2 separate regions of the Homo sapiens genome follow, and region 2 is linked to region 1. Evidence: fine-mapped expression QTL. Tissue or cell type: whole blood. Region 1 holds a variant in brackets; the other region holds the start of a gene. All regions are shown on one strand. Distances are between the middles of the regions.

The links.
Region 2: PPP1R3G starts here. The variant in region 1 is fine-mapped to the expression of PPP1R3G in whole blood (INTERVAL, PIP above 0.99). The same link has a PIP of 0.9 or more in T cells, blood mononuclear cells and monocytes.

The regions. Positions count from the first base shown.
Region 1 is chr6:5,058,801-5,063,184 of GRCh38, forward strand. All of the region lies in intron 2 of LYRM4-AS1 (LYRM4 antisense RNA 1), which reads left to right. It also overlaps a transcript of LYRM4 not described here. Among named protein-coding and RNA genes, the nearest start is that of PPP1R3G, 24 kb to the right of the region's middle. The variant C/T (reference allele first, on the strand shown) is at 2,560.
Region 2 is chr6:5,083,197-5,087,580 of GRCh38, forward strand. PPP1R3G (protein phosphatase 1 regulatory subunit 3G) reads left to right here and starts at 2,145. Exons shown (of 1, transcript NM_001145115.3): 1 at 2,145-4,384. The coding sequence starts at 2,290. The coding sequence ends at 3,366. All of the region lies in intron 3 of LYRM4-AS1 (LYRM4 antisense RNA 1), which reads left to right. It also overlaps a transcript of LYRM4 not described here. RefSeq lists silencers at 1,127-1,196, 1,227-1,506, 1,917-2,096, 2,347-2,446, 2,587-2,636 and 1 more and an enhancer at 2,427-3,116.

The DNA of each region.
Region 1 (4,384 bases):
TTGTTTTCCATTTTCTCTTTCTAGTTTAATGTTCTTTATATTCCTTTAAGGTAAAAATGTCTTGCTTCCAACTTGTTTTCCCTGATTTATCATTAACTGCTTTTAATTGAAAAAGTAATAAAAGCACATGACGAAAATGGAAAGAGATGAAAAGCATACACAATGAAAAGCAAGCAAGACCTCTGCTCTCCTAATCTCTGTCTCCAGAGGTGACACTGCTACTGGCTTCTTGTGTTTCCTTTTAGAAGTCCTCTATATGGCCAGGCATGGTGGCTCATGTCTGTAATCCTAGCACTTTGGGAGGCTGAGGCCGGAGGATCCCTTGAGCCCCGGAGTTCAAGACTAGCATGGGCAATATTGAGAGACCCAGTCTGTACAGAAAATTAAAAAATTAACCAGGTGTGGTGGCACACACATGTAGTCTTAGCTACCCGGGAGGCTGAGGTGGGAGGATCCCTTGAGGCCAGAAGTTCAAAGCCACAGTGAGCTATGACGGTGGCACAGCATTCCGGCCCGTGCAACAGAGCAGCGCCCTGTCTCAAAAAAAAAAAAAAAAAAAAGTCCTCTGTGTACATAAGAAGCACACTCCTCCCCTTTTATTGCACTAATAAAAACTTGGTATTCACACAGTTCTGGGCCTCTCTGATTTTTTCTTAACTCTGTATCTTGGGGATTGTTTCATATCCGCCCAAGAACAGCTACTCGACTCCCTTCCCTGAGTTTCCATTAACTGAATTCTTGTCGCAGGAAGAGGACTGTGGTCTGTCAACACACCTGGACATGCCTGCTCTGCGGCCCCATCAGACTTTGTCCCCAGGCCATTGTATGCTCTTCAAGTTCATTGAATCATCCTAAAAATCCTTTCCTACCACCTAACATCATCCACATTTCCTCATCTCCCTTTCCCTAAAAAGAAGGGTATTTAACCATCTGTACCCCATTGCATGGTGGGAGAATCACATGCTAATAAATTTATATGACTCTTCTCCTGTTAATCTGCCTTTTTTTTTTTTTTAAGAGACAGGGGTCTTGCTCTGTTGCCCAGGCTGGAGTAGAGTGGTGTAAGCATAGCTCATTGCAGCCTTGAACTCCTGGGCTCAAGTGATCCTCCCGCCTCAGTCTTTTGAGTAGCTGGGACTATAGGCATGAGACATGACACCTGGCTTTAATCTATCTTTTGTCAGTTGATTTTCAGCCAGCATTCAGAAGGCAAAGGGGAAGTTTTCCTTTGGCCCCTCCAACATGAAATCTGGATGTCCCATAATATATTGAACTTGTCCCCTCTTTAATGAGCATGTACATTGTTTCTGGTCTTTTCCTGTTACTAACAGTGCTTCAGTGAAATACATATGTACACACGAAAGTGTGGGATCAAGTTCTAGAAGCAGAGTTCTTAGGTCAAAACTATTTCTTTTAAAACATTGATAGATATTATTTTATTGCCCTCCAAAGAGTGAGCCTTTTTTTCAAAGATGGTGGGAATATTGATCTCTGTGTGTTGATTGTCTTTTGGATTTGTTTGTTATAATTTTTGCCATGAAAAAATGTTGGATTTTTAAGCAGGTACATTACTGTTTATGCTTTGCAGGTACATTCATGTAGGCCTTTTGGTTTTGTTTCTTGCTTAAGTCAGGTCTTGCCCAGTGAAGGTTTTTTTTAGTTGCCTACACTTTCTTATAGTCCCCTTGAGTTTCGATTTTTGTATTTTTTTTTTTTTGAGACAAAGTCTCACTGTGTCACCCAGGTTGGAATGCAGTGGTACCATCTCCATAGCACTCCCATAGAAAACTCACAAAAATCAGCTCACACGTCTGCCTCTCGGGTTCAAGTTATTCTTATGTCTCAGCCTCCTGAGTAGCTGGGATTACAGGCATGCGCCATCACACCTGGGTAATTTTTGTATTTTTAGTAGACACGGAGTTTCACTGTGTTGCCCAGGCTGGTCTCGAACTCCTGACCTCAGATGATCCACCTGCGTCAGCCTCCCAAAGTGCTAGGATTACAGGCGTGAGCCACCGTGCCCAGCTATATTTTTCAATTTATCTGGAATTTATTTTGAGAATTAGAATTCAGAGAGATTCTGCCCACCCCATAGCCAACTAGTTATACCAGTGGTATTTATTAAATAATTCATATTTTCTCGACCAATTTTGAATGCCACCTTTATCCTATACTGTTCTGTGTTCTTAAATTTAGGGGACAGCCAGTCAGGTGCAGCCTCAAGAGGGGACACAGGAGAGGCTCAGAAACAGTTTATAGTCCTCTCAGGTCCTTCACACAGGAGGCTGGCCATGCAGGTCACTTAATTAATTAAAAAGACAGTTAATTAATTGTATTTTTTGGTGAGGGATTATTTTACTTTTAACTTCTTAGTGTTTAATTTTTAATCCTTCATTTCTTCTATTTTTCTGATTTTAATTTATTTATCAGCTTTAGATTTTTGTCTCTTTTAACCCAAACCTGATTTACTAGAAGTTGTCTATTTTCATGCACAAACTGTCACACCACGTGCAGAGGCCTGCCTGTCAGTCAATAGTTCAGTTTTGGCTGAACTGCCAC[C/T]TTTGTTTCACAATAGCAAAACGATGATTTCACAATTGTTTGAATATCTTATTGCATTTTGCCCTTATTTTATACAAGATAGTGAACAATTGTAAAATAAAAAAGGTTAATCCTATCTATGTCATAAATAATGAGAGAAATGCAGAAATATTAGTTGCCTCCCAAGCTTTTCACTTACCAGGCTTACGCAGATCAAATGTGTGTTCAATAGCAAACGCTGAAGGTGGCTAGGGGCTATGGGGTTGGGATCTGAATCTAACTACCTGCATGGTGCAAGAACTAAAACCTGAAAAACGAACACAAAACCGATCCATGACCATTGAAATCCCCAGAGACTCTGGCAACAGGAAGTCTTGTACTGTTCTATTCCGCAGCCACCCAGAGCTCACGGGAGTCCCATAGAAAACTCACAAAAATCAGTTCACACACAATGAATTACAAAGCACTGGAAGAAATGAACACCATGAATAAGACGCAAGACCCAGAGATGGAATATTTATGCCATAATTGAGAATGTTATCACCTTTGTAATTCTCTAGCAATGGAGGTCTTTTATATGTGTGCATTGCTCAACTTTTTTATAATTAACTCTGGTACTTTCGTACCACCTCCACAATAGCGGGGTGTTTAATACTGATACTTTGCCATTTTCTTCCTTCTATTCTCCTGGCTTAAAATACTATTATTTTCATTTCTTTATTTCTTCTTCCCCTTCCTTCTTCTTTTTTTTTTTTTTTTTTTTTGAGATAGGGTCTCGCTCTGTTGCCCAGGCTAGTGTGCAGTGGTGCGATAATAGCTCACTGCAGCCTCAAACTCCTAGGCTCAAGTGATCCTACCATTTCAGTCTCCCAAGTAGCTAGGACTACATGTGCACACCAACACCCCAGCTAATTAATATATATTAATTATATATTTATATGTTGATAATATTTATAATACATATTAATTAATATATTTATAACATATATTAACATATATATATATGTTTAGAGACAGGGTTCACTGTGTTGCCCAGGCTGGTCTCGAACTCCTGGCATCAAGTGATCCTCCCACCTCAGCCTCCCAAAGTGCTGAGAGCCACCATGTCTGGCCTTATTTTCATTTCTTAATAATATCATTTCCCCTGAATTTCATGACCTATCTGCATTTTTCTTCCACATCATTGTTTTATTTAATTCACCCTTCCCTTTTAATAAAGGCCTAAGACAAATGTGGCCAAAGGGATGGTATCACCGAGGCAGCATGGCAGGAAGGATTAGAAGCCTCCCTTGCTCAGAGCTGCAGGTGAGCTGCCAGCTGGCTCTTCTACTGAAAACACATAACACATCCTGTTTGAGGACAGTTTTCCACCTCCCCAGGATCCAGGCGACTCTCAGGACATAATTTACTTCTCTGTGCAAGTGGTCCATGCATTTCTGGCTCTGTCAGGTGACTTCTGGAATTAGAACCTCATGGGAGAGGCTGCACACTTTAGAATCTGTGATCTCTGATGAATGCAACCATTGGATTTGGAGCAAATCAAAGCCTGCCGCAAGCCAGGAGGGGAAGGGAAGGAGGAGGTCACACTGGCAAGGGCCCTTGGAAGGACTCATGTGCCGCTGACTATCCTGTGGTCAAGTGGACCGTGGTGGAGGGTGGTGTGGGCATCCATTATCGAACCACTGGGTCTGCTCGTTCACAAAGCAGCTTCCCATGAGTCATTTCCATCTCTGCACCTCCTTCTCAACAGGCACAAGAGGAGTCACCTGTGGACATTTTCCCTCAATACAAAGTCTTCCTGAATAGGATTTTTTTTGAATGGGGCAAACTGGGCAGCAAGCTTTGA
Region 2 (4,384 bases), 24 kb after region 1:
GTGAGGGTTGTAGCCCAAAGGGTCGCCACCACCTCAAAATCTCTTTGAAGTCTTATTTTATCTTTAAAATAGCTTGTGAATTTTGTATTTAACTCCATAATGTAGCAATGTGTATTTAAATGTAAAAGCAATGTCCTTCCCGAAATCAGAGTTGCTGCAGGAAGACAGGCCGTGTGCGCCTGGGGCCTCTTGGAGATGCCATGCCCAAGTCAAGACACAGTCATGGAATTCCACACTGGGCATAAAATGACCAGCAAGAGTCCAGCAAGGGGACCGGCAGGGCCCCCTTTACAGGACATCACTCCCAGCCCAGGCTTAGTAGTGATGGGGGAAATGTTTCCTCTAAGCTGCCTGGCTTCAAATCCCATGAAAGCCACCCTGTGGGGCCTTGGCGATGAGAAATCTTTCTGCAGTGTTGTGTCCTATATGTAGGCAGGAATGATGTGATTCCTATTTCATGGACAGGACATCCTGTAGGTGCTCAGTCAATCAATGTAAGCTCTTAACACGCTCCTCACCCACCATCTCTTTTGCCTGCCCTCTGCCAACATGGCTAAAACCCTGGCCCCTTTCAGTTCTGCCAAACCATGACATGTTTTAGTTATGAAGCCCCAATTAATTACGTTTCTTAATTAGTGGTTCTGTTTCTAGAATCCCCAACTTTCTATATAAGTAACTGAATACACATCCACATAGGTTTAAATACGGTCCCCAGAGCCCAGCATCAGCATCCCCTTGTTAGAAATACTTCCAGGCCCCAGCCCAAGCCCACTGAGTCACAAACGCTAGGGAGCTGGGAGCAGTGGGGGGCGCCTGTAATCCCAGCTACCTTAGAGGCTGAGGCGGGAGGACTGCTTGAGGCCGGGAATTTGAGACCAACCTGGGCAGCATAGCAAGACCCCTATCTCGAAAAAGTTAGAAAGAAGGAAACTCTGGGAGTGGGGCCCTGTGATGTGACAACGGGCCCCCGAGTGATGTCCGTGCATGCTGAAGTAGAATCACTGACTTAGATGGCCCTCAGGGTGGCCTTAAAACCAAAACAAGAAAAACACCACTTTTAGACGTTCCCCCAATCCCTAGGTACCACGACGCGCTTCCCCACCCCTCCCCGGCCTCAGGTTCGGGCCTTGGCCCCTGGCAAGGCCGGAGCAGCAGGGCGGTGACAGCGCAGTCCGGCGCGGGCCACGCCCCCACTCCCGGTGGGCGGGGAGGGTGCTTGGGGCGCTGGCGTCCGGTTGCGGTGGGAGGTGGTGCGTGCCGCGTGGGCGCCGGCCCCACGGGGCCCCCTCTCCGCCCTCCCTGCGGGATCCCGGGGCGCGGACTCGCGGGCGCGTCGGGCGGGACAGGGGGAGGGGCGGGACGTGCTCCCGGGCCTGGCGCGAATGGCCTCCGGCCGCTCTCGGCTGCGGGCCATGGCCGCTCCCCGGCGCGTCCCCACACGGTCCCCGCCCCAGTCTGGCCGCAGCCCACCCCGCGCCGCCACTGGGCAGATGGGGGCGGCGGCTCCTGCCTCCCGGCTTTCGGAAGAGCAGAGCGGAGCGCGCCTGACCGAGTCAGGCTTCCGAGTGGGATTGGAACCCGGGGCGCCCTGAAGTTTGGGGAAAGCAGGAGCAGAAGGGAAGGGATGCGCTCCCCGCTCTCCGGCGGCGCGGAATGGGCCTCCTTCCAGCCTCTGCGTAGGCAAGATTTCCCCAGTTGCGCGCTGCACCGGGGACTCCCCAGCCCGTGAGGCAGCCAAGAGGAGAGCGCTCAGTGACCCTCTGGGGGCAGAGCCGTCAGGCCAAGTTCATGGGCAGGAAGACTTTGTGCACGTGGGGGTCTCTGAAGGTTGAGCGCGAGCTCTGCACCCCCACTTCGAGGCACTCAAGAAGCGGAACAGACGCGAGCCCCGCCGGGGGTGCGGGTGAGGGCTGCAGGGAGCCCGCGAACGACAGAAAGTCGCCCCCCGCATTCCACCGGAGCACTCGGGAACACGGCTTCCAGGTGTCCCAGCGGCCGCGCCTCCCCGCCCCCGGCCCTCCCCCGTCGCGGGCAGGTTCAACCGGGAGGCGGCGTGGCCCCGGAGCCGGCCCCAGGCCCGCATCCTCCTCCCACTTCGCCCTGGGCAGCCGCAGCTAAAAGCCGGAGGCTCCAAAGTGGAACTACGTTGTCTTGTCGAGCCTGGGGCGACTCGCCTCGGGGAGGGCGAGCCTGAACTGCAGCCCTGCGCTCCTTCCACGGCCCGAGGAGTTAGTTAAGTCTCCAGAGGGGCCCGGTTCGGCCCGAGCAAGTCCAGGGGCGAACGGCGTCATGGAGCCCATAGGGGCGCGGCTAAGTTTGGAGGCGCCGGGACCAGCGCCCTTCCGAGAGGCCCCGCCGGCCGAGGAGCTGCCCGCCCCGGTGGTCCCCTGTGTGCAGGGTGGCGGCGACGGCGGTGGCGCTTCGGAGACCCCGAGTCCTGACGCTCAGCTAGGGGATAGGCCCCTGTCCCCGAAGGAAGAGGCCGCCCCCCAGGAGCAGGAGGAGCTGCTGGAATGCCGCCGCCGCTGCCGCGCGCGCTCCTTTTCCTTGCCCGCCGACCCCATCTTGCAGGCGGCCAAGTTCCTGCAGCAGCAGCAGCAACAGGCGGTGGCACTGGGCGGCGAGGGGGCGGAGGACGCACAGCTCGGCCCGGGCGGCTGCTGCGCCAAGTGCAAGAAGCGGGTGCAGTTCGCGGACACGCTGGGGCTAAGCCTGGCCAGCGTGAAGCACTTCAGCGAGGCGGAGGAGCCGCAGGTGCCGCCCGCCGTGCTCTCGCGCCTCCGAAGCTTCCCTATGCGTGCCGAGGACCTGGAGCAGCTCGGGGGGCTGCTGGCCGCGGCGGCAGTGGCCGCGCCCCTTTCAGCGCCGCCTTCCCGGCTCCGGCCGCTCTTCCAGCTCCCGGGGCCGAGCGCCGCGGCCGAGCGTCTGCAGCGGCAGCGCGTGTGCCTGGAGCGCGTGCAGTGCTCGACGGCCTCGGGCGCTGAGGTGAAGGGCTCCGGCCGGGTGCTCAGCTGCCCTGGGCCCAGGGCCGTGACCGTGCGCTACACCTTTACCGAGTGGCGCTCCTTCCTGGACGTGCCGGCTGAGCTGCAGCCCGAGCCGCTGGAGCCACAGCAGCCAGAGGCACCGTCTGGGGCCTCCGAGCCAGGGTCCGGGGATGCCAAGAAAGAGCCAGGCGCCGAGTGCTTCCACTTCTCGCTGTGCCTGCCCCCGGGCCTGCAGCCTGAGGACGAAGAGGACGCCGACGAGCGCGGCGTCGCGGTCCACTTCGCTGTCTGCTACCGCTGCGCGCAGGGCGAGTACTGGGACAACAACGCGGGCGCCAACTACACGCTGCGCTACGCGCGCCCTGCGGACGCGCTCTGAGCCTGGAGAGTTTCGAAGAGCCGTGGGGCGGGGTTGATTAGCACGTGGAGCTCGGGCTGCCGCCTCAAGGAACTTGCTGGGACGCTTTGCTGAGCGTGGCGAGTCTGGCGTGAGGGGCGCGTGGAGGGAAAGGAGGGAGACTTTGAACCGTCGACTCGCACCCCCGCAGACAAGTGAGCGAGCTTAGAGAGCCCGGGCAATGCTCCGAAAGCCTCTGACCTCAGTCTTCTCGTCCGTTTGACCTTCCTACAAGGCCTCTAGAATTCCCAGCCTGCGTCAGAATAGGAAGAAACTTCCAAGGCCCGGAGCAGCTGCCTCCAAGAAAAAGGCTCCCAACTCCCGGGCATGGTTCTAAGGCCTTGGGATTGGTTTTTAACTCTAAATATCATATTGTAGCCCTTGCAGTTTGCTGGAGACCCCTAGGGAAAGAACAAAGCGTCCTGCCACGGTGCACCAGAGGAAGGTGCCACGGACTGTGGGTGCACGCGTGGGACCTTTACACCCCAACCTATTTCTCAGAGAAAACCCTTCGGGGCTGGGCCAGGCCACCCTTTTCTTTTGACTGAGATGTGGGTAATGTGTGCCCAGACTTGACGTTGTTTATTGTGCGACATTGTGTACAAATGTCCTTTATAAAAGTAAAGGCCACTCGCACCCCCTTTTACGCTGTACTCTGAATTTTGGCTTTCGTGAGTTTGGGGAGGCATTGGCAGTCGGCCGATCTTTGTCAGCTGATGATGTGCGCACTTTAACAATCCTTAAACAACAGCCTACAAATTCCTCCCCTTCGTTCCTTCCTCTCTACTGCGAAAGGGCCCAAACTTCCCATGTGCTTTAAAATGTTCTGTAGAAAGTGTTCCGTCCCCCTCCGAATTAAGACGTTTGGTGAATTGAAATGCCAGTCCTCGGGCAGGCCCTGGCTGTGATCTGCGAGAGCCGGGCACGCACGCCCCGGCGCCCTTTGTGTAGGCAGAGCACACTGTTAGGAGACTTGCCGGGCCATTAGCAGTCAGAGAAG